Linked DNA regions of Homo sapiens. Changing the gene in region 7 together with the main gene of any one other region gives a genetic interaction. Each region holds a gene or a part of one and is shown on either strand. Other genes may lie near its edges.

The links.
Region 1: changes in HDAC8 (region 7) and FUT8 together harm fitness less than expected from each alone (positive genetic interaction), as found in Homo sapiens cells (one large-scale study listed by BioGRID).
Region 2: changes in HDAC8 (region 7) and VPS45 together harm fitness more than expected from each alone (negative genetic interaction), as found in Homo sapiens cells (one large-scale study listed by BioGRID).
Region 3: changes in HDAC8 (region 7) and TRAPPC11 together harm fitness more than expected from each alone (negative genetic interaction), as found in Homo sapiens cells (one large-scale study listed by BioGRID).
Region 4: changes in HDAC8 (region 7) and SLC30A5 together harm fitness more than expected from each alone (negative genetic interaction), as found in Homo sapiens cells (one large-scale study listed by BioGRID).
Region 5: changes in HDAC8 (region 7) and SEC31A together harm fitness less than expected from each alone (positive genetic interaction), as found in Homo sapiens cells (one large-scale study listed by BioGRID).
Region 6: changes in HDAC8 (region 7) and ARL5A together harm fitness less than expected from each alone (positive genetic interaction), as found in Homo sapiens cells (one large-scale study listed by BioGRID).

What each region holds. Positions count from the first base shown.
Region 1 is NC_000014.9:65,418,816-65,423,350, forward strand, and holds part of FUT8 (alpha-(1,6)-fucosyltransferase), read left to right. Parts: intron 1-4,535. UniProt on the Homo sapiens protein: Catalyzes the addition of fucose in alpha 1-6 linkage to the first GlcNAc residue, next to the peptide chains in N-glycans.
Region 2 is NC_000001.11:150,090,741-150,095,275, reverse strand, and holds part of VPS45 (vacuolar protein sorting-associated protein 45), read right to left. Parts: intron 3,340-4,535; coding exon 3,181-3,339; intron 2,975-3,180; coding exon 2,867-2,974; intron 1,750-2,866; coding exon 1,628-1,749; intron 1-1,627. UniProt on the Homo sapiens protein: May play a role in vesicle-mediated protein trafficking from the Golgi stack through the trans-Golgi network.
Region 3 is NC_000004.12:183,665,072-183,669,606, forward strand, and holds part of TRAPPC11 (trafficking protein particle complex subunit 11), read left to right. Parts: intron 1-1,185; coding exon 1,186-1,355; intron 1,356-1,988; coding exon 1,989-2,059; intron 2,060-2,931; coding exon 2,932-3,046; intron 3,047-4,535. UniProt on the Homo sapiens protein: Involved in endoplasmic reticulum to Golgi apparatus trafficking at a very early stage.
Region 4 is NC_000005.10:69,117,643-69,122,177, forward strand, and holds part of SLC30A5 (proton-coupled zinc antiporter SLC30A5), read left to right. Parts: intron 1-856; coding exon 857-986; intron 987-4,051; coding exon 4,052-4,253; intron 4,254-4,535. UniProt on the Homo sapiens protein: Together with SLC30A6 forms a functional proton-coupled zinc ion antiporter mediating zinc entry into the lumen of organelles along the secretory pathway.
Region 5 is NC_000004.12:82,817,615-82,822,149, reverse strand, and holds the end of SEC31A (protein transport protein Sec31A), read left to right. Parts: intron 1-1,041; coding exon 1,042-1,113; intron 1,114-2,896; coding exon 2,897-3,076; 3' UTR 3,077-3,641; downstream 3,642-4,535. UniProt on the Homo sapiens protein: Component of the coat protein complex II (COPII) which promotes the formation of transport vesicles from the endoplasmic reticulum (ER).
Region 6 is NC_000002.12:151,811,113-151,815,647, reverse strand, and holds part of ARL5A (ADP-ribosylation factor-like protein 5A), read left to right. Parts: intron 1-448; coding exon 449-509; intron 510-1,331; coding exon 1,332-1,479; intron 1,480-3,207; coding exon 3,208-3,291; intron 3,292-4,535. UniProt on the Homo sapiens protein: Lacks ADP-ribosylation enhancing activity.
Region 7 is NC_000023.11:72,566,049-72,570,583, reverse strand, and holds part of HDAC8 (histone deacetylase 8), read left to right. Parts: intron 1-1,699; coding exon 1,700-1,830; intron 1,831-2,553; coding exon 2,554-2,695; coding exon of another isoform or gene 2,696-2,699; exon of another isoform or gene 2,700-2,787; coding exon of another isoform or gene 2,788-2,827; exon of another isoform or gene 2,828-3,002; intron 3,003-4,535. UniProt on the Homo sapiens protein: Histone deacetylase that catalyzes the deacetylation of lysine residues on the N-terminal part of the core histones (H2A, H2B, H3 and H4).

The DNA.
Region 1 (4,535 bases), on a different chromosome or scaffold from region 7:
GTAAAACATTAGCTTTTATGTTATAATAGGTTTATTATAATGATATCATTTCCTTTTGAGGTGGTAGGCAAGAGACTAGAAGAACTTCATTTGTATAGCATTTAATATTATTTATTAAAAATGATTTTATAGGCCGGGCGCGGTGGCTCATGCCTGTAATCCCAGCACTTTGGGAGGCCGAGGCAGGTGGATCACCTGAGGTCAGGAGTTGGAGACCAGCCTGACCAACATGGAGAAACCTCATCTTTACTAAAAATACAAAATTAGTCGGGCATGGTGGCACATGCCTGTAATCGTAGCTACTTGGGAGGCTGAGGCAGGAGAATCACTTGAACCCGGGAGGCTGAGGCAGGAGAATCACTTGAACCCAGGAGGCGGAGGTTGCAGTGAGCCGAGATCTTGCCATTGCACTCCAGCCTGGACAACAAGAGTGAAACTCTGTCTCAAAAAACAAAACAAAACAAAAAAACAAAAACAAATTCTAACCTTCATGTGCCTCATTACTGTAATGTAAAAAAAAAAACTATGTTCATTGAAGAGAACTAACATATTAAACTAAAAATGAAGCACAGTGTTCTCCACTCATGGGAGTACTGTTAGCAGGTTTAAGACAGTTACTGTGAGAAGTTCACAAGGTGAAAGTGTCTTTGATAATTAGGGCCTAATCAATTGGGATTTGACTTACTCAATTTCTCCAACACATGGAATTGTACTGGTACCTGAAGGAGAAAAATATATAATAGAAGTTGTATTAGTTTTTATGTCTTGAGCTCTCTGAATAACTACTTGATTCATTCAGTTGCCAAATGTCAAAAGATTGTAATTTTGAGAAAGTTGATTCTTTACAATTAGAACTAAGCCAGGGTAAACAATTTGCTTTCTTTTTCTAAGTTTTAGGTTTTTCTTTCTCTCTTAGGAAGTTTAGTGAAACTCTAGGGGTTAGGCAGGTTGTAACTGAAATTCTTGAGGCCAAAAGGTCCTGTCTTATGCTTGGTAAACCGACCCCCTCAACAGCGTGAGAAATGTAGATGTACTGATAACCCTGATTGCTTCGTGACATAATTACAGACATCCAGCCCTCTATCAACTAAAATTCCGTTTATTTTTAAGGTTCAAATATTAGAAGTATCTGCTTGATACATCTCATAGGTTGTCAAGTGTGCATACGATGAGAGATATAATGTTACTTTTAATTTGTAAGTAAACAAACACACAATATTATGTTCTCAATGCTGAGTAAGCTGAAAAGATGTATACCTACTGAGGATGCACCAAATAATAAGCAACAGAAACCTGGTAATGTGCAATTAGGAATAGTTCCTCTTAATAATAATAAAAAAAAGATTAGTGTTTAGGTTTTAATGGCATAAAGATGTAATGAAAATAAAATTACCAAAGAAGTCTATTTTGGAGAAATTTTTGTCAGACTAGATAACAAAGAAAAGAACACATCCTTTTTTTATTTTTATTTTTTATTTTATTTTAGAGATGAGGTCTTGCTCTGTTGCCCAGGCTGGTGTTGAATTCCTAGGCTCAAGTGGTCCTCCTCCCTTGGCCTCCCAAAATGCTGGGATTACAGGTGTGAGCCACCAAACTTGGCCAGAACACATCCTCTATATGACTGTCTACAGAGGCTTAGAGTAGTACAGAAGTACCTGAAAGGAAATAATGATAAATAATGAAAATGTTTTAATAGGGATCATGTGTTCATTTCTACATGTATATCAGTATAGTACCTATCGTTTGCTGTTTCTGCTTGTAAATGCACGGTTGGAAAATAAGATACCCAACCTTTGGAAATTATTCAGGGAAGTGCATCTAAAGTTTAGAGAAAAGTTGGTTTCTTCATATTTTAATGACACTTTTCAGCACGTATAGTTCACCCTTGAACAGCACTGGGTTTGGGGCACAGACCCCCATCAAGATGAAAATCCACATGTAACTTTTATCTCCTCAAAAACTTAATTACTAATAAACTACTGTTGACTTCCAGCCTTACCGATGACATAGTCAACTAACACATTGTACCTTATATGTATTATATACTGTGTTCTCAAAGTAAGCTAGAGAAAAGAAAATGTTATTAAGAAAATCATAGGCCGGGCGCCGTGGCTCACGCCTGTAATCCCAGCACTTTGGGAGGCCAAGGTGGGCGGATCTTGAGGTCAAGAGATCGAGACCATCCTGGCCAACATGGTGAAACTCCATCTCTACTAAAAATACAAAAATTAGCTGGGCGTGGTTGCATGTGCCTGTAGTCTCAGCTATTCAGGAGGCTGAGGCAGGAGAATTGCTTGAACCTAGAAGGTGGAGGTTGCAGTGAGCCAAGGTTGTGTCACTGCCCTCCAGCCTGGCGACAGAGCGGGACTCCATCTCAGGAAAAAAAAAAAAAAAAAAAAAATCATAAGGAAGAGAGAATATATTTACTCTTCATTAAGTGGAAGTGGATCATCACAAAGGCCTTTATCCTCATTGTCTCCACATTGAGTAGGCTGAGAGGAGAAGGAAGCGGAGGAATTCGTCTTGTTGGTCTCAGCATGGTAGAGGTGGAAGGGGGAAGGGGAGGCGTGAGAGGCAGGCACACATGGTGTAACTTTATGGCAATACGTCATACTTCTGCCTTTTTTGCTTTTTCATTTCTCTGAAAACATTTCCATATGGTACCAATCCTTCTTCCACCGTTTGCTTTAGTTTCAGTGCCCATATCAGAGAAGGGTCCATGTCATGAAGGAGTCAAAAGCAGTCTTGAACAATCAGACAGTCTTCTGCCATATCGTCTGATGTCATTTTGTTTTCTTGCATTCCTTCTACATTACCTGGTACTGGATTGGAAGCACTTACCGAGTCATCTTTTTAAATTCCTCTTGTGTGATGTCTATTTCTTGAATTTCTCCAAGATTTGTATCTTGAAACCCTTTAACCCACCCCCCCCTTTTTTTTTTTTTGCCATATCCACAGTCTTTTTCGTGATTTCCTTGATTGGCCCTGTGGCAAATCCTGTGAAGTCATGCACAACATCTGGACACAGTCTTCTCCAGCAGGAATTTATTGTTTCAGGCTTGATGGCTTTCATGGCTTTTTCCATAACAACGACGGCTTCTTCAGTGGTGTAATCCTTCCAGACTTTCAGGATGGTTTCTTTATTGGCATTCTCTTTCATAGAGTTGACAGTACTTTCTGTAGTGTACTGTGTCCAGTGATCCTCGTGACCCCCTGATTTAGAAGCTGAATTAGAGACATTTTGTTTGGGGGCAAGTAGACTACTTCAGCACCTTTGGTGTTGAACTCATGGGGTTCCGGGTGGCCAGGGGTATTGTTCAATAATAAAAGAACTTACAGGCAAAATACTTCCTGACTTCAGGGACAAAGCATCAATGGAACCAATCCAGAAAAAGGGTTCTCATTGCCCAGGCTTTTTTTGTTCTATGACCAAAAGACTGGGAGCTGGTGTTTATCTTTTCCCTTCAAGGCTTGGGGGTTTGTAGCATTATAGATAAGGGCAGTTCTGATCATAAACCACACTGCATTTTCACCAAACAGTAGAGTTAGCCCATCCCTTCCTGCCTTTAATCCTGGTGCTTTTTCTCTTCCTTACTAATGAATGTTTTTTATGGCATTGTTTTCCAGAATAGGGCACTTTTGTCTATATTAAAAACTTGTTTAGGCGGATATTCTTTCTCCATATTTCTTTTTTTTTTAAGAGATAGGGTCTTGCTCAATTGCCCAGGCTGACATGCAAATGGCATGATCATAGCTCACCGCAGTCTCAAACTCCTGGACTTAGGCAGTCCTCCTGCCTCAGCCTCCCGAATAGCTGGGATGCAAGTGTGCACCACTATGCCTGGCTAATTTTTAAATATTTTTTATTTTTTTGTAGAGACAGGGTCTCACTGTGTTGCCCAGTCTGGTCTTAAACTCCTGGCCTTAGGTGATCCTCCCACCTGGGCCTTCCAGAGTGCTGGGGTTACAGGTGTGAGCCATTATGCCTTCCCCCAGCTAATTAAAAAAATGTTTTTTGTAGAGGCAGGGTCTCGCTGTATTGCCCAGGCCCAGGCTGATCTTGAACTCCTGGCCTCAAACGATCCTCCTGCCTCATCTTCCCAAAGTGCTGGGATTACAGGGATGAGCCACTGCACCTGGCCTCCTCAGTGATTTTCTTTCTTTCTTTCTTTTTTTTTTTTTTTTTTCGAGACTGAGTCTCGCTTTGTCACCCAGGCTGGAGTGCAGTGGCGCGATCTCGGCTCACTGCAACCTCCGCCTTCCGAGTTCAAGTGATTCTTCTGCCTCAGCCTCCTGAGTAGCTGGGACTACAGGTGTACACCACCACGCCTGGCTAATTTTTGTATTTTTTGTAGAGACGGGGTTTCACCATATCGGCCAGGCTGGTCTCGAACTCCTGACCTTGTGATCTGCCCACCTCGGCCTCCCAAAGTGAATGATTTTCTTTCTTTTTTTTTTTTTTTTGAGATGGAGTCTGGCTCTGTCGGCCAGGCTGGAGTGCAGTGGCGCAATCTCTGCTCACTGCCAGCTCCGCC
Region 2 (4,535 bases), on a different chromosome or scaffold from region 7:
CTCTCCATCTAAAGTAGTCCTCCCCACCCCTACAATTACTTTGAAGCTCATCACCCTATTTATTTCCTGGATAGCACTTATTAAAATTATATTCTTCATTTGTTTACTTGTTTACTCATTGTCTCTATGTAAGTTCTTTGAGGGCGGGTACCTTGTCTTTCCTGTCACTTCTATATCGCCAGCATCTACAACAGCTCTTAACATACTGAAAGCATTCAATCAACATCTGTTGTGTAAAAGGACAAAGCAACTGAATTATTAACTATATGCATACTTAGGTTATAGTGACAAATGGTAACAGATGTTGACAACTGATAAATGTGCATTTTGTTCAAGGAATATAATTTTGAGCTTTGTGTGGGAATGAATTATGTAAATTAGAAAGGTTTCCTGCTGTGTACTGATCATATACAGTATATTCTTCCGGTGGCCTGTGGTTTCCCTTTGGTAATAAATAATTCCTTGTTCAGTAATTCTTATAAAAATTCATAAGCAAATAAATGTTTTTATTTATCACATTAATGCAAAAGCTCAAGAATAGTTGTTTTTTAAAAAGCCTCTCAGATAGGTGCATAACTTTGGGCTGGCGTTCATTCTTCCCACTTAGCTGACATTTCTGAATCTTGATCCCAAGGTCTTTAAACATTTTATCTGAATGAGTGTACTCTCTGAATTTAACACCAAATGTTCTGCATCTCAACCTTGGACTTTTAAAAGATGATTTTTTTTTCTGTTCTGTACCAAATTACAGAAAAAAATTTTTTAAAGGACAAAGTGAAAAAATACACTTTATCACATAAAAGAATCACCTATGTATCTCAAAACATTTTTCTCATTCAGAATCTCATTATGTTTATAAAACACTATACTTCCAAGGCTCTTAGATGTTTATTAACTGAAATAATAGAAGAATTATGTCAACAGTAAAATTTTCACATTAATCTATCCAATAGGATTCAAGTATATATGTTAGCCCCTTAGATAACATGTGTTCCAACAAAAAAAATATATAATTTTTAACTAGGTAGAATTTATGTATACAGTATTTAAAATTTCAGGTTGGCCTAAATAAGTTGTTCTGGACAAGTTTTGTTTTTATTAAAAATTAACCACTGGATTAAGATGACAATTATTGCTTCCTTTAGTTAATACTCAAAAAGAAAGCCATCCTTTGCTCCTGTGTAACAAATGGCCTTTATTAATTAGGTCTCTCAGTTTGTGTGCTGGCAACATTTGGCAAAGTCCAGTCCTCACCAAAAATAGTAACAACCTGCTCTGGATGGCAATCAAGCAGCAAGCCTATTTTTGGCCTCAATGTTTGAAACACCAAATGCCAGATGCCATCGAACAGAACCTTAAATGGCATAAGTAAACTGGTCTGATACTGAAATACAGAAGGATTTGAGGCTCTCCAAAACACTTGTTTCTTTAGTACAAAAGAAATAAATGTTTCAGACTTAGCAGGGGAATTCATATCTAATGCTGACATATGTAAAACCAAAAGAATCTTAACAGAAGAAAGGAGCAGCAGAATGCTATAACCTCAGCTTTAGTCCTTAACATTACTCTAAATTTTCTGTTTGTTCAGTATTTCTGGCTTTTATTATTAATATCTTTGTTAGCTTACCTGTCTCTGAGTGTGCTGGGGCCTAAATAAGGATATAGGTTTTCCTTAAGCCTTCCTTTGATGAGATGATCCAGGGTTTCATGTAGGAAAGGTTGATGCTGTGTATATACATTTTCTACTCCCTAAAACAGGGGAAAATGGTTCTTATGTCATTTTTGGGAAATTGGCAACACAAGAATTAATAATATTCATATCAGAAAAGGACATACACTCAATAGAGATTTCATGGGATAGATTTACGTAACTGTGGGAAATTTAAAAATTATTTTAATCAGCTAGAAATGTTCTAATCTCATAAAAATTACTCTGTAATTTAGGGCTAGTTATTGTAAAGGATTTTTTAAAAATGGAATTGCTTAAATCCTTAATCATGTCTTCACTGTCTCTCACCCTTTTGTGAAATGTTAAATGATAGGTAGAGCAAATAAAAGGAAAGGATTATGTATAAAAAAGACTGAAAATACCCAGGAAAATAGAAAAACTTCAGGAAACATAAGAAAGGCTGCCGGGCGCGGTGGCTCACGCCTGTAATCCCAGCACTTTGGGAGGCCGAGGCGGGCAGATCACAAGGTCAGGAGTTCGAGACCATCCTGGCTAACACGGTGAAACCCCATCTCTACTAAAAATACAAAAAAAAATTAGCCGGGTGTAGGTGGTGTATGCCTGTAGTCCCAGCTACTCGAGAGGCTGAGGCAGGAGAATGGCGTAAAACCCGGGAGGCAGAGCTTGCAGTGAGCCGAGATCACGCCACTGCACTCCAGCCTGGGAGACAGAGCGAGACTCCGTCTCAAAAAAAAAAAAAAAAAAAAAAGAAAGGCTAGCAGATTAGAATTAATTTTTGAGTATTTTAAGAAAACAGGTTAGTATTTTTAAAAGATCAAAAGTTTGCTTCATCTTTAATTTCCTTCAAAGAGAAACTACCTAAAAAATCTTTAATTATAAACAAATGGTGTAAAATATCTGTGACTAACAGAACTGTTGGTCTTTTTCTTCTTATTTCCTGGAAATACCTCCAGTTATTTCCTGCTAAGCTATTTGGTCCAATGTTGATACGGCTCTAAGACAGAAAGCACTAAAAGAAAAAGCTTTCAAGAGGATGCCAGTTTTAATTTCATTTAACTGACACAGTACTAAATTAGCAGCAATCTTCAAGATACTTTGAAGATCATATTCATTCACTCTCAGCCTCAAGGACTTCAACTGTTCTCACTCAGGAGAGCATAGAGGAGATGTCTATACCTTCAGTCCTTTGAGGAATTGTTTGGTGATAGCCACAGCATCTTTGGGGCTGAAGAGGTCACTTCCTCTGACTCGTTTACCACCATATTCAACAACTGCAGACACGAGCTATTAAGAAAGAGAAGCAAATTTTGATTGCTTAGGCATCAGGAAGCCCATTTCATAAGAAAATAATTTTATTAAGGAAACAAAAATGAAAAGACAGAATTATACATTTCTGTAAATAAAAATAGTATGATTTATCATTCGTTAGAGCTAAGAATATAATAACAGAGTTGGTTCCTGTTTGGTGGGCTAATATGGAAACTGGTTACCTTTCGATACTTCTCAGAAACACCTTTATTCCTGAGGTCCATCATTAGTCCTGGCAGGCTATTGCTGCTGTGTCGCTCATAATGTAAAGCATAAAGCATCACCAGGCGGGCAGCATCAAACTCTGTCACTTTGGGGTTCTGCAGAAGCCTTTTTATATTCTGAAGAAAGATAGAACTTATATTTATCCCCCTTTCACTTGAGTCATCTGTTGTACAATGCCTTAGATCTAATAATTATTGAATGGTAGTGATACATCACTACTATGACAATTATAAGTCATACATTTAGCAACTGTCTCAACTATAGAAAATTAAATGCCTTTTGTCCAAGGTAAGAATTAAATAAGGAAATATATTTCCATTGTAATTGCTTTAGGACAAAAATGAATTTAATAATGGATAGTTCCACTTTTCTTTTCCAATAGCTGAAGTTGTAATTTCCTTGCTGAAAGAACACTTACTATTTCCACGACTTGAATCAATACGGCACAACAAAACTGACTAGTTGATTTGCAAAACCTACTGCTTTCTCTTAGTATTAATGATTGACCAGTGAAATGGAGACAAGTTGGTAGAATTTTACACAGACTGGGCTTGATCTCTAAGAAGCATCAGAACATGTCTCAACATGGTTGACAGAGATGAGTATGTAATAGCATGTAATCTCTAGATTTAGTACTTAATGATTTTAAGAGGCAGGTACCGATAGGAAAGGGGGCCAGGAGAAGCCATGTTTACATTTTTTAATCCTCATATTCAGGACCTTCCATATAGTATAGATTTATATTTATTATGCAGCAGAACAAATAATTTAATTCAAGTCAACAAATACTTTTGAGTCCCCATAAGGCAGTATGTCATGCACTGTTGCAGGCACACAGATAAGTTAAAGACAATTCCTGTCCCCAGTGAGTTCACAGTCAATGGGGTGAAGGATGATCAAAGTAATATAATTTATTCTGCTATATACATGTTTCTTTAATGTACTTTAGTTCTGTGAGATGGATAAATATGGAAATGGTGTCAGTTTAACACAGAAGGCATATTGGTTCACATGTAATTTTTCCAGAATGGATAGGCTTTCTTATGATTAAAGGGGAAGCCTTACCAATACCTTAAGAAAAAAAGATGATAATCCTACAGAAGTGTGTTCTGCAAGAAGTATCTGGTTTTGTAGCTTCAAGAACTGTTGCACTTTCCACTGTGTTATGCTATATGGGGAAAGGGCAAGTGCAAATAAAAAGGATGCAAATATATTGCACTGTGTAAAAAAGCAAAACAAAACAAAATAACAATCAAACACTGATTGATGAAGAAAGCTGTCTCCATATGGTATTTTTAATTTTGACAAAGTA
Region 3 (4,535 bases), on a different chromosome or scaffold from region 7:
GATTATTTTTCTTTTCTTTCTTTTTTTTTTTTTTTTTTTTTGAGACGGAGTCTCGCTCTGTCCCCGAGGCTGGAGTGCTGTGGCGCGATATCGGCTCACTGCAAGCTCCGCCTCCTGGGTTCGTGCCATTCTCCTGCTTCAGCCTCCCGAGTGGCTGGGACTACAGGCGCCCGCCACCACGTCCAGCTAATTTTCTGTATTTTTAGTAGAGACGGGGTTTCACCGTGTTAGCCAGGATGGTCTCGATCTCCTGACCTCGTGATCTGCCCACCTTGGCCTCCCAAAGTGCTGGGATTACAGGCGTGAGCCACCGTGCCAGGCCTACATGATTATTTTTCTTTAGTGTCATGTTTGTGTCAAGAAGGCAGGGAGCCCAGCACAAGCCCTCTTTTCTCTTAATGCTCGAATTCAAGCTGCTTTTCATTTCTCTATTCCCAGCTTTTGGCTGAGTCCCCATGTTATTTTGTGTCAGACTTCCTTATTGACCTCATCTTTCCTTGCTGGAGGTAGACATTGGATCACCATGAAGTGGAGTAGTCTGAGCCAGCACAGCTGATTTGGAAGGAATGTGAGGTTTCAACTGCATCCCTCAGGGCTAACACTCAAATCTACAGCATCCTCTTCCCACTCTGTGGCACTCAGTGCCCAGACTCAAGTGGCTGCTGTGAAGCTTCTGTTTAAGAATTGTTCTCTGCTTTGTACTTCATCTACAAGTGAGGTGAAATGCATCACAGCAATATGTCTTTGAAATAAACAAAGCCTATTGGATTTTAGATAATATTTTATTTGAGCAGTTTTACAAGAACAGAAGCTGGAATGGTGAAGAATATAAGTAGAATTTACCTGGAAATGGGCTACTTTTTTTTTTTTTTTTTTCTTTAGCAAAGTATTTGAGACCCTTGACATCATTAGACATGCATCATCGTTTTATGCATTCAGTTATGGGGCTGATAGAAACTCTTTGGCTTCAGTCATTCTTTAAATGGGAAGTATAGCTTCTCCAGGGTTGAGATTCCACCTTCAACACTTACTAGTTCTTACTGAATCTGTAAGCCTGAGTTTCCTAATCAAAAATGGGAGGTGTGTATATTGAATGAGATCAATGCACATAAAGTGCTTGGCACTCAGTAACAGGTGGTTTCTGCTCCTGTCAGGTAACTTTTCAATTTCTGCCAATGTTTGCAGAGAACTTCATATGAGTGGTACATTCCTAAAGGGATCTTAAAGACTGGCTGGATGAATAAGCATCTGAATCTGGTGCCAGCCCTGGTGGTTGTGTTCTATGAACTGGACTGGGATGAGCCTCAGTGGAAAGAAAAGCAGTCTGAGTGCGCCACCAGAGTGGAAATAGTCAGGTATGATCTTCTGTGTCAGGGCAGCTATGTCAGTTTGCACATGTGTGTTATTCACTAACATTCCTTGAAGGCAATGGAGTACCGTTCAGACTGCAGTGGTCACTTTGCGGATTGACCTCCAGTGAATCTTGTTCACTTCCTCACAGGTAGCATAATTATTGACTGTATATAATGCTGGGTACGTGAAGAAATTTAGAAGACTAATTGGTCTGAATTTCCAAATGTTTTTCTTGTATTATCTTTTTTGGAGACATAGTAATTTACTGTTTAGTCTCTTAAAACGCTTTGCTTTATCACTGTTTAAGTTTCAAATAATTAATTCTTTTGGATGACTACTCTGCAGTGTATCACCATAAAGAAGTAAGTTGCATTATAACTTTTACGTAAAAGTATACATTAATCTTTTGCTTTTAAGGAAGATTTTTAAGATTAGAAGATGTGAGATCATACTTTTAGAATTTAAATCATTGTGACATATATGTGCTTTGTGTGCAGGAAAAGATTTCTTCTGATCTTGGTTTTTTTAGTTGAAATTTATCTTCGGTTGAATGACCAAGGTTGTATTTTATGTGAAGTCATGAATACATTTTTTAAGTTAAAATAATTAATTTTATTCTTGCTTTTTCATTGCAGGCAAAGTTTACAAGGAAGAAACACAAAAGTTGCAGTGGTTCTGATTCAGAAGAAAACCCCTTTGCCCCCAGGTATCAGAAGTCTAATTAATGAATTAATTGTTTTATACCTCCAATTCTTATTAAAGGGAGATAGGGGTTTTTTGGATGTTTAAATCTTTTATGCATTCAGTTATGGGGCTGATAGTATGTTAACTTTAAAAAGCACCAATGATACATGAACAAATGCTTATTGTAAAAAATTAAAGATAGTGAAGAATGCAAATCTCAAGTTCCCCTAGTTCCCCTGTTCCACTTGTCTTCTTATGTAGGGGATATAGGAAGGCATGTTCAATTCACAAAACAATTCGCTTGAATTTTTTTACAAGAGTATAATTTTTTTTGACTTCCAAAGCTTTCCAAAAAAGAATATAATTTACTTATCTAAGATCTATTTGAAGCTGTATTCCTTATATGAAATTTTTTCATTAATTTTCTGTAGGGCAAAGAAAAAGGCTATAGGATTTGTAGTTTTCTCTTGGAAAATGTCTTAGTTTCAGATTCTTATTTCCACTTTCCCAGACTTTTGTAGACCAAAATATATTTTTGTTTCTGTGTTGAAACTTATAGCATCCAAAATGGTTTTGGAGACTTCTTTCATGAATTATTGCTTCCAGTTTTAGTTATGTTTTTTGAAATAGTTATGTGGTATATCTGTTGGCATTACTTGGCCACCTATCCTGGCTCAGTAGAAAATTCCACAGTGTTTTCCTAAAAGGCATATACTGTGTAACCTCTAAGAACCACACAGAGCTCTCAAGGAGCCCAGGAGTCCTGTTGGTGTGATGAAAAGCTGTTTGGGTTTTTATTCCTAATTCTATTTTTTCAGACTTGGGGAAATATTTATTTGGGAAGCTACATTAGTTATTTTATTTCTCATTCATCTTGATGGGGATTATCAACAGGAGAAGATGTCATTGCTTCAGAAAGGGCTGCAGCTTTATGCAATGCATGTGAACTCTCAGGAAAGTCTTTGTTTGTACTGCCGCACACTGACCACCTTGTGGGTTATATTATAAGGTAAGTAGAGGTCTTTTAAAGTTTTGTTTTTTTAGATTATTAAGAATTGAGAAATTGGTAGCTTAGACCCATTTATTTTTTTAAAAAATCATGTTCATGAAAAACATTCATATGATACAGAGGCTATGGGGTAAAAATAAAAGTCTTTTTTGTTAAATTCTTAACCCTCTCCAATTCCCTGAGGTAACCAGTATCAACAGTTGCTCAAGTTTCCTTCCAAAAAAAGTCTTTTTGTATAAGAACAAATATATGTATTTCTTTATAGTATCCATACCACACACACAAACACAAAAACATAAATGTGCTCATATGATACACAGTGATCTTCCACTTAACATTACCTCATTAACATGCTTCCATATGTGCATCTAGGTCAACTTTATTTAAAGAAACAAAGTTTATATGTTTCTCCATTATACTTTCCAGTAATTACCCATGTCCTTGAGTGACATGTATGTCCTTTTTTGTGAGAGTGTCTCCATTCCACTCTGGCCTGTTTTTGCTTCATTCTTGAGCTGTCGATGTATCTATGTCACTAATTTCTTAGGAAGGTGTGAGCCCTATCATATCTTAAATATTTTTATAAAGCCTTTGTGTATAAAGGGCAGATTACCTGGAGACACAACATTACCTCAAAAATCATGTGGTCATTATTCATTGTTTTGTAGCATTTATTGTCACACAGAAGTTTTGTAGTAGTACATTTTATGCTAGGATGTATTTAGATATGAATATTTTCATTGATTTTGACTGTAAAATGGTTTTCCTTTTCATTCTGCATAAGTGTCCTTCGTTAACTCATGAACAGTTTTATTTATTTTTGAGTATTGCTTCTCTTGCATTTGTTTCTTTCTCAGAAGCAAACCTCTGAAAATGATCCGCTGCAGGAGGTTACCTGGCCTTCTCACTGGTATATAAAAGACCAGGCTTCTAAGAAAGAGAAGCATACATTTAGCAGAGAACATGCAGAGGAATAGGATCAAATGAAAAGATGAATTGCAAAGAAACTTAAATGCAATTAGCAAAATAAATCTTTACACTGGAAGCAGTAAACAGTAGAATTCACACCACAGAAAATCAAGTCCATGGTGCCCAGGGTAACATTGAGATAATTGCTTAGAATTCAGAGGAAAAGAATAAATGAGTTTTATTCCTTAAATGCAGACATATGAGCAATAGGGAACAGAGAGAAGAGAGGGGCAGCTGGTAGCACACTCAGGCAGCTTTTCTTTCCACTGAGGCTCATCCCAGCATCACACCTGGCCTCAGCTCTCCAGGCCTGGACAGCTCACCATTGACTCTGCACTTCAGTGCTTTCCTATTCACAGTGCTGTTCCTTGTCAGATGCTTTCATAGTCATGCCCACCTGCCAGCTCTCCTTTTCTGGGCTCTCTCTTACTCAACATTTAAGGCTTCAACGAAGCCTTCATTAGAAAGCTGTTGTCCTCTGTGCTATACCCTGCTGTAATGACTCTTCACTGAGCAGCAT
Region 4 (4,535 bases), on a different chromosome or scaffold from region 7:
AAGGCAGGCGGATCACCTGAGGTCAGGAGTTCGAGACCAGCCTGGCCAACATGGTGAAACCTCGTCTCTACTAAAAATACAAAAATTAGCCGGGTATGGTGGCACGCACCTGTAGCCCCAGCTACTCGGGAGGTTGAGGCAGGAGAATCGCTTGAACCCAGAAGGCAGAGGTTGCAGTGAGCCAAGATCGTGCCACTGCACTCCAGCCTGGGCAACAGAGTGAGACTATGTCTCAAAAAAAAAAAAGACAGGGCCAGGTGCGGTGGCTCACGCCTGTAATCCCAGCACTTTGGGAGGCCGAGGCGGGCGGATCACAGGGTCAGGAGATCGAGACCATCCTGGCTAACACGGTGAAACCCCGTCTCTACTAAAAATACAAAAAAAATTAGCCGGGCGTAGTGGCAGGCACCTGTAGTCCCAGCTACTCGGGAGGCTGAAGCAGGAGAATGGTGTGAACCCAGGAGGCGGAGCTTTCAGTGAGCCAAGATCGTGCCACTGCACTCCAGCCTGGGTGACAGAGCAAGACTCTGTCTCAAAAAAAAAAAAAAAAGAGAGTAAAGAAGGACTTTGATGAATATATAACATTTTAACAAATGTATATATTCGTTAAAATGTTATATATTCATATATAACGTATATATATTCATATATAACGTGTATATATATGTGTATATATATATATGTATATATATATGAAGGACCTTCCAGGCATTAATATGATATTTAAAATATTGCTAATTTTCTATTATTAATTACTTAGTAGTATGAAAATTTGGACTTGTTTCCTCATTTATAAAGTTTATACTTTAAAAATATTTGTCCTTTTCCTTTTCTGAAAAATGTTCTATGTTTTTAGGTACGGCCGAATAGAAATTCTGTCTGGATTTATTAATGGACTTTTTCTAATAGTAATAGCGTTTTTTGTGTTTATGGAGTCAGTGGCTAGATTGATTGATCCTCCAGAATTAGACACTCACATGTTAACAGTAAGTCTTTTTATTTTCCTATTTGGATTTCTAGTCATACTTACATAGTTTTTTCTATCCTAAAGTTTAATTGTTTGCAGTTATTGCTCTAAGAAGGTTTTATTTTTTACTTATATCAACATAACTTCCTATCTTGCTGTTTACATTTATACTGCTCCCTCTTAGAAATTCTCTTTTTTTTTTTTTTTTTTTTTGAGACAGAGTCTCTGTTTTCCAGGCTGGAGTGCAGTGGCATGATCTCAGCTCACTGCAGCCTCCACCTCTCAGGCTCAAGCGATTCTCGTGCCTCAGCCTCCTGAGTAGCTGGGATTACAGGCATGTGCCACCACCCCCTGCTAAATTTTGTATATTTTGTATAGATAGAGTTTCGCCATGTTGGCCAGGCTGGTCTCGAACTACTGACCTCAAGCAATCCTCCCACCTTGGCATCCCAAAGTGCTGGGATTACAGGCATGAGCCACTGTGCCCGGCCAGCTATAGCAACTTTTAATGTTCTCCCTGTACCACCAAAGCTTTACATGTGCTGTTTCTTGTAGTTGGCATGTCCTTTCCTTACTTCTGCCCTTCAGCCTCCATCAAGATTTTGCTTATGTGAAATACTTTTTTTCTTTTCTTTTTTTCTTTTTTTTCAAGCAATTCTCCTGTCTCAGCTTCCCGAGTAGCTGGGACTACAGGCGCCTGCCACCACGCCTGCCTAATTTTTGGAAATACTTTCTTTTAATCCCCCTCTTCTCTCCACAAAGTTTGTTAGATTCCTTTTCTCAGTATTCTCATTATGTTTTGTGCATTCTTCTTTTAGCAACATTGAGTTGCAGTTGTTTAATTTGTCATTCTTCCACAATTAAGATATGTAAGTATCTTCAGGACCTGAATTACATATTATTAACTCTTAAGTTCAGTTCTAGCACCTGGCTTGTCGTAGGAAATCAGTTGTTAAATGACAAAAAGCAGCTCTGGCTCTTGCTGGTGGAAGCATACATGAGTAAAATGTTTCTATAATACAGTTTGGAAAAATAGACTTTTTTGGATTTTTTAGTGCCTGTATCCTTTGATATTGACTATTTATCATACATAAACATTCACACAAACATATAGAAGTACATGACTCTGGCCGGGTGCAGTGGCTCACGCCTGTAATCCCAGCACTTTGGGAGGCCGAGGTGGTTGGATCACCTGAGGTCAGGAGTTTGAGACCAGTCTGGTCAACATAGTGAAACCCCATCTCTACTAAAAATACAAAAATTAGCCGGGCATGATGGCGCACACCTGTAATCCCAGCTAGTTGGGAGGCTGAGGCAGGAGAATCACTTCAACCACGAGGCAGAGGCTTCAGTGAGCCCAGGTTGCACCAACTGTACTCCAGCCTGGGTGATAGAGAGACTCTGCCTCAAAAAAAAAAAAAAAAAAAAGTAGTACATGATTCATTGTACCCTTATTTATAATAGTGAAAAAATGGAAACAATTCACTGTCCACCAGTGAAAAAAGTAATTAAATAAATTTGTTATCTATATAATAGAATATTACAGAGCTATTGAAAAGAATGAGATATATCTGTATATACTGGCCTGAAAATATTTACGAGATGTACTAGTGAAAAACAAATTGCAGGCCATGCATGGTGGCGGGCGCCTGTAATCCCAGCTGCTTGGGTGGCTGAGGTAGGAGAATTGCTTGAACCTGGGAGGCAGAGGTTGCAATAAGCCGAGATCATGCCACTGCACTCCAGCCTGGTTGACAGAGCAAAACTCTGTCTCAAAATGAAAAAAAAAAAATTGTAAAATAGTATTATGATTACATTGTTGGTTTTAAAGGGTGTTATGTGTATGTATGTTAGTACACAGATGGAAAATACACCATTTTAAGCGTGACTAACCCTTGGTGGTAGAATTATAGGGGACTTTCATCTTCTACATTTTTATTTTCCTGATAAAATACACAATGATGAAGTATTTTTCAGTAGGGGAGAAGGAGTACTTATGAGATGATGGAGTCTCTGTAAGCAGTACTTGGTTTCATTCAAAGTCATTAACCATCTACCAGCTTATAAAGCCTAATGAAATTTTAAAATCTGGAGTCAAATGGTCCGAATCAGGAAGAAGTAAATAACCTCCCTACACATTTAATAAAGTAAATCTCTTACTACTTTTGAAAAGTAATTAAAAGTATTTGTCCTTCTCATATTTATATTTTCCTTTTATAAAACAAATGGATTGCTTTAAATTGTAGATGTAGGCAAATTAACACCCTGAGCTACTACTATTCAAGATCATTTTGTAAGAGCAGATAATCAAGGATAAGTAACTTTGTTTATCCTTTGGAGTATTATTGTGGCACCATTAAATTAAAGTAATTTCATTCACTTTGTTAAGAAAAAAATGAGAGGCCAGGCATAGTGGCTCATGCCTGTAATCCCATAATCCCAACACTTTTGGAGGCCAAGGTGAGAAGATCGCTTGAGCCCAGGAGTTTGAGGACAGCCTGGGCAACATAGACCCTGTCTCTACCAAAGAAAAAAATTTGTTTTTAATTTAAATAAATGCGAGATTACTATTGTATGTTTCCTTTTTATTATACTTGTTTTACTTTGGAAAATTTTACTGTGTTTAAGACATAATAAGACCATATTTGGAATCTGCTCATTAATAAATTATAATTGTTGGCATATAAACTGTTCAAATTTACCTAGCAATATAAAGATTTCAGGTACAGTGTATACTTGCCCTAGTAAGCAGTACTTTCAAACTCTTCAATAAACAAAACAAAACTTTGCATCATTTATTTATACATAAACCATAAACCAAGTACATACCATTCTTAATTGAAATAAGTCCAAATTCCTCTACTTACCAATTCTGCTTGATATTTGAAAGTTAAAATGTTTCTTCTAAAATGTTCTAAAATTCACATTTTTAAAATTTTGGACTTACTGAAACTTAGTAAGGTTTTACTGTGAATACTTTCAAAACTGTAAACAGAAAAACATATATAGCTATATAATAACTTTTAAATAACAAGTCTATTTTTAAATTACTAATTTAAAGGTTTTTTTTCTCCCTTTTGCTAGCCAGTCTCAGTTGGAGGGCTGATAGTAAACCTTATTGGTATCTGTGCCTTTAGCCATGCCCATAGCCATGCCCATGGAGCTTCTCAAGGAAGCTGTCACTCATCTGATCACAGCCATTCACACCATATGCATGGACACAGTGACCATGGGCATGGTCACAGCCACGGATCTGCGGGTGGAGGCATGAATGCTAACATGAGGGGTGAGTCCTTGCAAAATATTATCCTACTTTTCAACTGTGTTCTAAATCAACCCTCTGTGTTTATTTGTATTAAGTTTTGGGCTTCTGGTATGATATGATTTTTAAAAAGCAATCTGTGACTAAAAGAAAGGTCTGAAGCTATCACTATAGAAAATATTCTTACCTGAATACACATAAAATTAAATATTATTCAGCCTTTAAAAAGAGGGACATTCTGGCTGGGAGCATGGTGGTTCACGCCTGTTAATCCCAGCAATTTGGGAGGCTGAGGCGGGAGTACCA
Region 5 (4,535 bases), on a different chromosome or scaffold from region 7:
GAACTAACATAAGGCTGTGGTATAATGTAGAACATTAAGTTAATCATGTAATTTTAAAACTGTTAGTTTTAGTTTTAGAATAGTTTCTTTGATTATACTTTACAGTGCTATGGTAGAGAGAAAAAAAAGCTTTTTAATTTAATAATTTATTTTACTACTTCCCTCAGTAATCTTAAGCTGCCAAAAGATAGTTTTCTTTCTTTCTTGGTGCTTTAAAGGCTTAGAAAAAGGCAGGATTAAACAAATGTAACTAAGTGTTTAAGTAGTATTTTTGAAAGGTTAAAACAAGATTCCACAGTTCACCTATATGTTTGCCTTCTACCACCCATAATCGACAATAACTACTTAGACCTTCTTTTTTGTGATACACTGACCCATTGCTGCCTCCTGATGCTTGTGAATATAGTGCAAGCAAACATGCATATATACCTTATCAAGTGAGTTTGCAGTTCATATGAAATCCAATCAGTACTCTTTCATGCACTGGAAGTAAGTCTCATCCTCTCCTCATCCCAGTCCCCTCCACCCTCCACCCTTGATAGATGATTGATCTCTGTTCTAATAATCTGTTCAAGTTTCTTTTTTTTTTTTTTTTTTTTTTGAGACGGAGTCTTGCACTGTCGCCTGGGCCTGGAGTGCAGTGGCGTGATCTCGGCTCACTGCAACCTCCACCTCCTGGGTTCAAGCAATTCTCCTGCCTCAGCCTTCCGACTAGCTGGGATTACAGGCGCCTGCCACTACGCCCAGCAAATTTTTTGTATTTTTAGTAGAGACAGGGTTTCACCATGTTGACCAGGCTGGTCTCAAACTCCTGACCTCATGATTTGCCTGCCTTGGTCTCCCAAAGTGCTGGGATTACAGGCGTGAGCCACCACGCCCGGCCATAATCTGTTCAAGTTTCTTAGTTGTAGTTGCCTCCATTTCTTTATAAAATGAAGCCATTCAACATTTTAAGTATAAGGTTTAGTGCAATGAGATAGGGCAAGTTCTTAGGTTAAAAGTTAATGTTCAAATATAACATCTATTTTTTCTTTCCTGCAGCAAACCAAGAGGAAGCTAGATGATGCCAGCAAACGTTTGGAGTTTCTGTATGATAAACTTAGGGAACAGACAGTAAGTTTTGGAGGAAAAGGATTTATGATAATCATTTATTCCTAGTTGCTAGTAAAACAGTTGTCTTATCAGCACTCCCATTTAGTATGCATGGGGGCAAAATTGTCATGACATTTAGAGAATGGGCATGGCTGTGTTGAATCATAAATTCCACTCACTGGGGTTAAGGGGATACGGGTGTGTGTGTGTGTGTTTGTGTGGGTGTGTTGAGAGAGACATTTTAACCCTCTCATAACAAGAGTATAAATACAAACTGGCCTGTGTTGGCCATAAGGTAGCTGACCTTCTGCTGTTCCTTTTATATGGCCCAGTTACAAGAAATCAAAGAGTATGCAGATACTCTGTTTTCCAGGGACTAAATCTATAATCTTTATCATAGTCTAAGACTCTTGACCCTTTTCTTTTAGGATAGCCATTATACAAAAGCAAAGCCAAATGTAGCCACAAGATGAATAGGGTAATGTGCTGTAACTATGAAGATAGCCAGGAGTAAGAAGTCAGTTCACTACGTTTGTTCTCTTGTCCCCACCTCACCATTCTTTTCTAAAATTGTCTTGTTTTATTAATGAAAGCACTAGGAAAGGAGAAGAAAAAAAGAAGTGGGACTTTCTTTTTATTTTTTCCATTTCAGCATTCCTCTAACCCATTCCCCACACTCAGTTCCATCAGATGAAAATAACCATTTCTCTCATGAGAACCAAACTAAAGAAAGTTGATATAACAGTGGAAGTAGTGTGGTCCTTGGACTGATCCAAAATAAAGTCTTCTCGGTGGGCACAGTGGGATATGCCTGTAATCCCAGCTACTGAGGAGGCTGATGCGGGAGGATCACTGGAGCCCAGGAGTTTGAGACCAGCCTGGGCAACATAGCAAGACCGCATTTCCAAAAAAAAAAAAAAAAAACAGAAGATACAATTAGCGTATACATCTAGATGAGTATATATTAAAACATTTTTTAAAAATGAGATCAAAATAGGCCAGGCATGGTGGCTCACGCCTGTAATCCCAGCACTTTGGGAGGCTGAGGCGGGCAGATCACCTGAGGTCAGGAGTTTGAGACCAGCCTGGCCAACATGGCAAAACCCCGTCTCTACTAAAAATACAAAAATTAGCTGGGCATGGTGGCACACGGCTGTAGTCCTAGCTACTCAGGAGGCTGAGGCAGGAGAATCGCTTGAACCCGGGAGGCGGAGGTTGCAGTGAGTCGAGATCGCACCACTGTACTCCAGCCTGGGTGACAGAGTGAGACTCCATCTCAAAAAAAAAAAATCCAAATAAAGTCTTCTGTAAAGTATGGACACCTATGCCAAGTAATGACATAGTAAAAAACTACAGGTTTTATAGTTTTAAGAGATGACAGGATTATAAAAAGCAGGTAAGAATTAGTAAATTTGGGCCCTTCCTTTGAGATATTATGATTAAGAATCTTTAATCTCCTTTTTGTGCATAGGAGAATTTTTTAAAGGTCTGAAGCTCTCTTAAGTGGAGAGAGAAATTAGCATTTCAGTTTGGAGAGGAAATCGGGCTGCTTTTCTGTAAGAAAATACCTGGCTTATACATGTATAATTCATAAATAACTTATTTATGTAAATCATTTTGTTGTGGTTGTACTTGATAACTGTTGCTTGGTTCAAGAAACTTTCTAGAAATGCTAAATGGTTTATATATTTTTATAATGTTTGTTTCAAATTCCACTTAAATATCTGGGTTTAATGTTTATGGAGGATCTCATGGGAAGTTATCCCTTAATTTAATTCTTTCTCTTGGTTCACTTTTGTTTCAGCTTTCACCAACAATCACCAGTGGTTTACACAACATTGCAAGGAGCATTGAAACTCGAAACTACTCAGAAGGATTGACCATGCATACCCACATAGTTAGCACCAGCAACTTCAGTGAGACCTCTGCTTTCATGCCAGTTCTCAAAGTTGTTCTCACCCAGGCCAATAAGCTGGGTGTCTAAAAGGACAGCTTCTCTTCCACTCAATATTGCCATTTTTCCAAAGAAACATGTTAAAAAAAAAAATTATAAGACATGGACTAGTCCTCATTAGCATGTTTGCATAGCAACCAGTCAAGAGCATTTACACTATTTCTGCTGATATACTCACCTTAGAACTGCTCAGAACCCTGGTGCTTTATTTTTGTTTTAATCTTTTGTTGCCAGTGATGATTTTCCTATTCTGCAAATAGTGTATTTCCTGGATTACACATAGTATGGTTTCCTGAAGTATTCTGATAAATGTGTTTTTTAAAACCTCAATATACTTTTTAGAAAAGGAGCATCTGGTTATGCATAAAGCAGAGCTAAAACTAAATTTCTTTCATGTCCTCCCTACTTCCTCAGTGTCAATCAGATTAAAGTGTGTAATCCTATTTTATGTGTGTATAGTCTTTTTTGAAACAGCTGCTTAAAATTTAGTTTATTTTTTGTGTCTTAGGATTCCTGAGTAAATAACTACATCTACAAACTGCTACATGGGTTTTAGCAGATATTAATAAAAATGGGATCACTGGCTTTAACTATATAGGAAAAGACTGGACATTTTTGTTCTGTAGAATGCATTGAGCTTTTTTCTATTTGTAAATGTTTCAATATTCTGTTTGAGTTTTAAGACTAAATTGTGTCCATTTTATAGCTAGAAATTTTTTCACCTATTTTGTTTAAATTACCTATAGCTGTGCCAGGCATGGTGGCTCACGCTTGTAATCCCAGCACTTTGAGAGGCCGAAGCAGGCAGAGGTCGGGAGTTCGAGACCAGACTGGCCAACATGGAGAAACCCTGTCTCTACTAAAAGTACAGAATTAGCCGGGCGTGGTGGCGCATGCCTATAATCCCAGCTACTTGGGTGGCTGAGGCAGGAGAATTGCTTGAACCCGGGAGGCGGAGGTTGCGGTGAGCCGAGATCACGCCATTGCTGTCCAGTCTGGGCAATAAGAGCAAAACTCTTTCTCAAAAAAAAAAAAAAAAATTACCTGTAGCTTTGAGGTTTAAGTTCAGAAAGAAAGCTTTAATTTCAGTCAGCCTGTAAATCAAAGCCACACATTTTGCACCCAGTTTTTCTGTCAAGTGACTTTATTATCATCTGTCTTAAGAACAGTGTGGTAAGGCCGGGCGCGGTGGCTCACGCCTGTAATCCCAGCACTTTCAGAGGCCAAGGCAGGCGGATGACCTGAGGTCAGGAGTTCAAGACCAGCCTGACCAACATGGAGGAACCCCATCTCTACTAAAAATACAAAATTAGCCAGCCAGACGTGGTGGCACATGCCTGTAATCCCAGCTACTCGGGCGGCTGAGGCAGGAGAATCGCTTGAACCTGGGAGGCGGAGGTTGCAGTGAACCGAGATCGCACCATTGCACTCCAGCCTGGGCAACAGCCTCCATCTCAAAATAAATAAATAAATAAAAGAACAGTGTGGT
Region 6 (4,535 bases), on a different chromosome or scaffold from region 7:
AAAAAACTGACCTTTTTCCTTCCCATTCACTCCACTCCACACACATGCACCCAGTTGATGCCTTAAGTTCCAGTTAGAACCTCATTGATGTAATCCAATGTGAAACATTTATACTTTAAGTCATTTGTAAATTGTGATTATGTTTGGTCTACTTTACTGAGAGTAGGCTTGCCTAGGAATAGAGGAAATGTAGTGCCATGGCTTCCTAGAGAGGTGGTTGGAAAGATGAGAGTTGTCTCTAGAATAATGGCGATGGGGAAGGTGAGTATAATGGCACACTTCTGCTGGTCTTGCTAGGATGTTCTTTTGACTTCTGAGAAAGTATAAAGTGCCATGCACTGAATTATGCCATAGATAGAAGGGTGAGATACAGAGTATATTTTTTCCTATAATTAATCTTTTTTTTTCCTTTTTTGAAAAAAAATCACTGGTGTTTTCTCTATTTCAGAGCACAAAGTTATCATTGTTGGGCTGGATAATGCAGGGAAAACTACCATTCTTTACCAATTGTAAGTATTAACTATTTTAAAAATTATTTTATTTCTAGTTACTTTTTTGGCCTGGGTGATAGTCGATCAATGAATGCAGTAAGAAATTACATGAAACCTAAGTTACCCTGTAAGAAAGCAGGTTGGCTATAAACCTGGAGCCAGATCTCAGCAATAGTTAGTAGAAAGCAAGAAATTTATATGATATTGAGCATATAGTTGGCATTGAGTTGTCCACTTGTTTTGTGCTAAAGCTCTTTTGTTTGTAGAAAGTAGAAAAATATGGCCGGGTGCGGTGCCTCATGCCTTTATCCCAACACTTTGGGTGGCAGAGGTGGGAGGATCGCTTAAAGCCAGGACTTTGAGAAACCGCTTGGGTCACATAGTGAGATGCCATCTCTTTATAAGATATATATGAATATATATATATTTTAAAATTAGCTGGATGTAGTGGTGCACACCTGTAGTTCCAGCTACTCAGGAGACTGAGGTGGGAAGATTGCTTGATCCTATTCAGGAGGTCAAGGCTGCAGTGAACCTCATGCCACTGATTATGTATGATCACACCACTACACTCCGGCCTGGGTAACATTAAAAAAAAGAAAGTAGAAAACTATAAAGTAGAAACTATAAAGTTTCCTGGAATGACCTAGTATATGCCAGATAGCCTACGACCTAGTTCCAGCCCTGTTTAAACCCTCACTCATGTTGTAAACTAGTGGGAAAAAGATATTTAGGTATAAATTATAAAAGGAGGTCATGCTGATTTGTCCTTGATTAAAAAATTGTTCAAGCAAGTTAGCTTCCTTGCTAATTGTAATGTATATAAACTTTTTTCCCCAGTTCTATGAATGAAGTTGTACATACATCTCCTACAATAGGAAGTAATGTAGAAGAGATAGTGATTAATAATACACGTTTCCTAATGTGGGATATTGGTGGCCAAGAATCTCTTCGTTCTTCCTGGAACACTTACTATACTAACACAGAGGTAATGTTTCTTACAATATTTAAAATTCTATAAACAGAATGCTTGGAAAACATCTAGATTTGAGTCCTTATAGTTAATCTTTTTGAAATATCACAGTATGTTAATACATAGAGAGTTTAAGCAGAGTAAAATCTGATTTCCTATTCCAAGGTCATTGTTCAATATGTCCACTATCATTGAACCTCTATAGGGAGAATTGGTGGTTAATTATGTTCTGATTGTGTATTGATCTCAGAACTTGTCTTTAATAGTTTTTTTTAATGACTTCCATCTCATAGTTTATAATTTCATTTCTCTCTATTTATGTTTGACTGAGTTTAGCTCACCAAATGAGAGGGTTTTGATGGTTTGAATCCTAGCCAGTTTTACTATTTTCTTTTACAAAACACAATTGCACATTAAATAATTGTTTTTCTTTTGATTATAAGGCATTTTAGACATAGTCATATCTTTTTATTTACACATTATTTCCCAAAGGAAATTTCAGACCTTTGACATTTGAGTGCTTCATTGCATAGACCTGTGAATTAAAAGACTGACCGTTGTTTTTGTAGTGTTCATTATTACAAGTTAATAAAGCATGGTTTATAAGTATATAAAGCTGACTTTTAAGTCATTAAGAAACCATTAAGTGTATCTGACAACTTGATTTCCTAACACTGCATTAGGCATTTAATCATTTTTTAATAAGGGAAGTTATGTATGATTATAAAGGTATATATGCTACTGTATACATATGCTATAGGTTTCAAATTCATGCCAACAGCCTGAAAATTAACAGTTTTATTAAAATACCTTGGAATAAAATGGGCCTTACAGTGATAAAGCCACCTATCAGTAAGCTGTCAAGTGAGAGGAGAGGTAAAGTAGCAGTTCTCTCATACATCTGCCTTTTGGTTGATGAAGTCTGAATAATTGAAAAGATCCAGAAAATCATAATAATTTATTTAAAAATTAAGATCTAGGTCCCAAAAATAAATAGTGCATGTTACTAATAGGCAGTCAGAACCAACTTGGGCATCATAAATGTTATCATAAAGTAAGTAAGTTAAATCTCCATCTGTTCCTGCTGATCTCTTGCTTTTGGGTGCTCACGGAGTTGAGGAAGAGCTGGGGTGGAGCTCAGTCCTGCACAACAATCACAAGTCTTTCATCGCACCTTCTGATACCAGTCTCATCATCAGTTTATGAAGGGGTTGTGCTTGCAGGTAGCAGGCGATACTTATGTAAGGAAGAGAGCTTGTTTTTAGATAGAGATTTATTCTTTCAGTTGGTTGAATTTTTTTTTAATTGATTTCTTTATCTTGTCACATTACTTTACTCCCATACCCGTGCCCTTTTAGGTGTTCAGATTGATATTAATAAATAATATCTACCTGGAAGTAATAAATTCAGGATCATATTGCATGTTTTTCTTGTTGATTTGTAGTGCAAATAGATAGATATAGGTCCATTAGCATTCAAGATACTAGTTTAGAAAACAGACATGCGTTATATATATTAGTTAGAATGTTAATATCATATTCTCTTTTCTCTTAAAAATTAGTAAATATATTAAAATCGATCAGACCTTTTGGCTTCACAATGTATAGGTAGCTCTGATTTTCCAACAATACCATAAGATTCCAATTTCTTGATATTAATAGCCTGTATGTCAAATAAACACATTATAAATTTTACAGATACCAAATTGTATAATCACTAATAATTTTTTTGTAATTATTTTAGTTTGTAATAGTTGTTGTGGACAGTACAGACAGAGAGAGGATTTCTGTAACTAGAGAAGAACTCTATAAAATGTTAGCGCATGAGGTAAGTAAGTAGTCTTTTTACATTAGATATGGGGAAGGGTATGGGAATCGATACTTTGTTTTCTAGTTTCTCATGAGGGTGCTATCAATTTCAAATTTTTAAAAATAATTAGTTATTTGCGGGCCACACTGCTCAATTACTCTGACATCTCCCAGTTTGGAAGTGTATCCAGAAGCAGCAGAAAGATTATGGAGTAAGTTGCAGAACTTTATTTCACTTATCCTAGGTACATTTGGTTTCACAATTTTCCTGGGCAAAAGTAATTTCTATAAGTGGCTTTCATTTTGCATTTTGAATAGATTAATTATACAGAGGATTATCATTGGAAATGAGATTTTAAAGTACCTGGGTGCTTAGCAATTCTTGATTGTTACTCAGCAGACTAATATTTAAATGTAATTGCTGTTAGGTTTCTCTGATATTGTCCCTTTGACTAAACAAAACTAGATGACTAGCCACATTTTCTTAGTCCTTGAAAAATAACCTGCCAGGCACAGTGGCTCACTCCTGTAATCACAGCACTTTAGGAGACTGAGGTGGGGGGATCGCTTGAGCCCAAGAGTTCAAGACCAGCTGAGCAACATGGCAAGACCCTGTCTCTACGAAAAATAAACAAAATTAGCCAGGTGTGGTGGCATGCACCTGTAGTCCCAGCTACTCGTGAGACTGAGGCGAGTAGATCGCTTGAGCCCAGGAGGTCAAGGCTACAGTGAGCTGTTCTTGCCACTGCACTTCAGCCTGAGTGACAGAGTGAGACCTTGTCTCAAAAAATAAAATTAAAAATAAATAAGTAGAAATAAAAATAGATTTAAAAATTAAAATTTTTTAAATAGAAAAATATTACGGTAACATAAATTTAAAAAACTGAATAATATAGTCAACTTGATAACTATAACATTATACTGTTTATATAGTATTTAGTAAAATTGATTATTTTTGGATATCTTATTGCAGATGCTACTTTCTCAACTCATTTATAGATAGGAATAGAAAAGTTAATATTTAGATATATAGAGTTTTTTATTTCAGTGGAATTTTTTGCAAAGCTTAGGAAAACACGGATATCTTTGTAGTGAAGTTTTATGTTAATTTTGTTATTGATTTGATGATTTGCTTTTGAGATTTGCTTTAAGAATTTTGTGTATTTCAGGCAACCTTTCAGGGCTTTAGGGAACCTAAGCTAGTAAAGTAGTTTTGTAAATTGAGGTTCCTCATTTCCTTATGACCACCAAGATGCACCTTTT
Region 7 (4,535 bases):
AGGCTGGAGTGCAGTGGCGCGATCTCGGCTCATTGCAACCTCCGCCTCCCAGGTTCAAGCGATTCTCCTGCCTCAGCCTCCCGAGTAGCTGGGACTACAGGCACGTGTCACCACACCCATTTTAAGCCATTTTTTAACCCATATGGTTTGGTTAACATAGTAACTATATGCCTTCCATTAAAGTTATTTAACATTTCAAAAAATTATTTTATGACAAACAAGATATCAAAGCAAAGCAAAACTGTCCAGTTTGCTTACTGTTAAATAGGGAGGTTTTCAGTAAGTGTTTTTTAACATTTACCAAAATAAATGGAAGGGTACTAGAAGAGGGAGCTTTTAGGACTGGGAAATACGGTCCGAGATATTACAAAATTTTTATTTTAATGGGTAGATTTTTCACCTCTGGTGGTATAGATTTGTCTTCTTTAAGAAGAAGCAAGAATTCTTGGGTCTTGGCTATGTATTTCACTTTTGAGGCCAAACCACAGGATTTCTTCCAGCTACCTTGGTGATAGTAGTAGCCTGTATAGTCGTATTCATTCATCGTAAACTCATGGCTGTGTTCCCATTCAGCAGACATTTAAAACCACTGCTGCCTCCCTGTGGCCCAGGTCAGGGCTCCTTCAACTTGAATGTGTATATGAATCACCTTAAAATGTGTCATCTTGTTTAAAAATCATCATGTTAAAATACAAATTCTGACTCAGGTCTGAGGCAAGTCTGAAGTTCTGCATTTCTAACAAGCACCCAGGGAATGCTGATGCTCCTGGTCTATGGACCACCCTTTAAGTGGCAAGGGCTAGAGAACAGTAGTGGCAGCTGTGGGGTCAAGAAGAGGAAATGGGGAATAGGCAGCTAGAGGTTAGATGTGGTAAGGCCTCTTATTGGGTTAGCTCCCTTTATTCCCTCACTCGCTTCTATTTGTCATTTTTCGTGAGGAGTAGGTTGAGAGGTTCTGAGTGAAGTCCGGTTCCAACCATTTTGCCCCTTCTCGCCTCGCTCTCAGAGGCAGATAGGAGGGTCCAAGTCTAGAAACATTACATTTTGGGTTGCCCATTTTTTATCTGTTAATAGAATGATAGTTATCCACCAAGCATTTTTGTATGTGTTATCCTTTTATCTTCACATAAGTCCCATAAAGTTCCCCATTTTACAAATAAGAAAACTGAACTACAGAACAGTTGACTTATCTGAGGTTATAGAGCTAGTAAGTACAGAATTAGGACAGGAACCCAATTCTCTGACTCCAAATCTGACTCCAAATTCAAAATGCATGATAACATAGCTGCCTATTAAAATAAAGATATAGCTGAAAGGATTAGATAGCCCAATTCGCAACTGGTTCAAATGAAAATATCCCTGCCTACTAGTTTGTCCTGAAAGTTGTAACTCACAGGGTAAAGTCTGTCTGATACCTGATTATTTGTTTAACTTGAATATAATTACTTTTGTTTACTTACCTATAAACTCAAGGGAAAATCTATCTTCTTGCCCCTTATTAATAGAGTCACTACTGTAGATGTGAGGCAGTGAAGACCGCACAGTGCAGTGGAAGAACAGAATATGTTTATTACTCCAGCCTATTGGAACCAGAAGTTGAGACGTATTTTCTTCTCAGACTGCTGGCTTCTGTTTCTAGCTTCTGGCATACGCTGGGTCTGACTCACTGACCTCTCTTTGTTCTCTCTGTTATTATTAGGATAGTTAAGCCTAAAGTGGCCTCCATGGAGGAGATGGCCACCTTCCACACTGATGCTTATCTGCAGCATCTCCAGAAGGTCAGCCAAGAGGGCGATGATGATCATCCGGACTCCATAGAATATGGGCTAGGTAAAGTCATTACCAGGCAGTGATGGGAGATGGACAGACTAATTTTTTTTATAACTTGTATGATTTTTTTAATATTTTTCGTTAAGAAATCATGTGTTAACTGTCAATCTTAATCTTTTGGTTTAGCCACATATAACTCACTAAACAAGCAAACCATATGAGTTGAGCAAAACCACATGAAGGGTTAGATGAAAGAAAACCTTTCAGTTGCTTATGCCCTACTGGCAGTGCTCAGATCTGGTCTGGCTGTGTATATGCTGATTTAGCTGTCCTGTGACCTTATATTTTAACTGGAGTACAGATTTATGTTCTGGCTAAGTTTTTGTACCTCACCCCTCATTAAACAGCTGCATTTTTTAAAACTGTAAGTGACCTGCAGGATAGTCTAGAAAAACAGCATGGTTTAGCAGAGGAACATTGAACTGGGGGGTCAACAGAGCTGGGTCCCAAGCCTGGCTCTGTGTGACCACTGACAAGACACATCACCTCTCAGGCTTGGTTTCTCTATCTGTAGCCTGTGACTAGTTCATCAGGAGGGTTTATCCTTTCTAGCTCTAACCTTTTAAAATATTATATCCCCAACATTGGAGTTGTTTCTGTCTCAGTTGGAGCTGATATTAGCACAGTGGCTTTTTAGTAGGTTAGGTTGTTGTCACACCTCAACCTATTCCTCCTCTTTTTCCAGTTCACCTTTTAACCAGCTCTTCTGATTTTTGCCCTAAGGTTATGACTGCCCAGCCACTGAAGGGATATTTGACTATGCAGCAGCTATAGGAGGGGCTACGATCACAGCTGCCCAATGCCTGATTGACGGAATGTGCAAAGTAGCAATTAACTGGTCTGGAGGGTGGCATCATGCAAAGAAGTAAGAAAATGACCTTTCTGTTTTCTGACTCTTTCCTTGAGTCAGTTTCTCAGTTATGTAAACTCTTATGCTTATTGTATTGACATTTACAGAGAGACGTGTGTGTATGTGGCACTTTACAAGGCATTCTGAAGAAATCCAAGTGAAATAGAAAAAAGATTACCTAATATAGTGGAAAGCACACTGCTCAAAGTCAGGACACCTGGGCTCTACACCTAGTTTTTCTAACTTGGCTAACTGACTTGGACTGATTACCCTCCCTAGGCCTCAGTTTCTTCATCAATAAAATGAACAAAGGATACAACTAGACAGTCTCTAAATTCCTTTTCGGCTTTCTAGAAATTCCCCTGTCTTCGAGGGACTTACAGTCTAGAAACATTAACAAAATTAGAATAGAGAACAACATTAGTTATGGTACCAATGGAATATATGTATGAGCTGAAGAGACTTATCAGTAGAAAGAAATTAATCATGGAAGTCTTGGCAGAAGTGAATTTTAGAGCTAGTTCTTAAAAGAAGTGGCAAACAGATTTTTAAAAAGGTGGAAAATTGACGCTAATAGGTTTAAAACAAAAGGCTGAAGAATCAAGAAGAGGGCTCATGCTCCTCTAATGAAAGTAGCAACCCAGAGGTAGATGTCTCTCAAAGACAAAGGGCTTGTGAAAAGGCTCTTCCTAGGTGCTTCTTGGAGTTAGAGGAGAAGTCCTTTGGAGTGTTTGTTTGTTTATTTGTTTGTTTGTTTTTGAGACAGAGTCTCGCCCTGTCGTTCAGGCTAGAGTGCAGTTGCGCGATCTCAGCTTACTGCAACCTCCTCCTTCCCAGTTCAAGTGATTCTCCTGCCTCAGCCTCCTGAGTAGCTGGAATTACAGGCACCCGCCATCATGCCCAGCTAATTTTTGTATTTTTGTAGAGACAGGGTTTCACCACGTTGGCCAGGCTGGTCTTAAACTCCTGACCTCAGGTGATCTGCCTGCCTTGGCCTCCCAAAGTGCTGGGATTACAGGGGTGAGCCACCGCGCCTGGCCACCTTCTAGAGTTTTATGTTAACATGTCAAACTGCAGTAGTCTGTCTGAGAAGGATTGCTGGGCCCTCCTTCAGCATTTGGGACTTTGTTTGATATTTCTGTAGTACTTAATCCACATTGAAGAAGAAGGATTTTTTAAACTCTGAATTTATCGATCCTCTGTCTGAGAGAAATGAAGCCACTGTGGTAGTAACTGCCAATGCCTCACTCAGGAATCAATTGTTCATGCAATCAACCGTGACCTTAGGTGCTCTTAGGTCAAGAGAAAACAACACTTTGTTTTTCAGAATAAAACACAGCACAACTTCAGCATATGCAGGTTAAGATAATAACAGAATTTTTTCCATCAAATTGACAGATTTTGTGGCCAAGGAAGTCCTTGAAAAAGTTTACTGCTAGAATTTACTAGTTGGGCAACACAGCAAAGGAAACCAATGTTTTAGTAATGAGTCTTACATGGTTTTAAAAACAGAGACAAGCTGCCTTTTGTTAGCTTTTGCTTGCTTGCCTGCTTGCTTTTTTCTTGCTTTGTTTGTTTGTTTGTTTGTTTTTTGTTTTTTGTTTTTTAATAAAGACAATGTCTCCCTATGTTGCCCAGGCTGATCTTGAACTCCTGGGCTCAAGGGATCCTCCATCCTCAGCCTCCCAAGGTGCTGGCATTACAGGTATGTGCCACCACACCTGGCCTCTTTCTTTCTTTCTTGTTTTGTTTTTTTCGAGACAGAGTCTCTCTCTGTCACCAAGGCTGGAGTGCAGTGGTGCAATCATAGCTCACTGCAGTCTCGAACTCCTGGGTTCAAGGGATCTGCCCACCT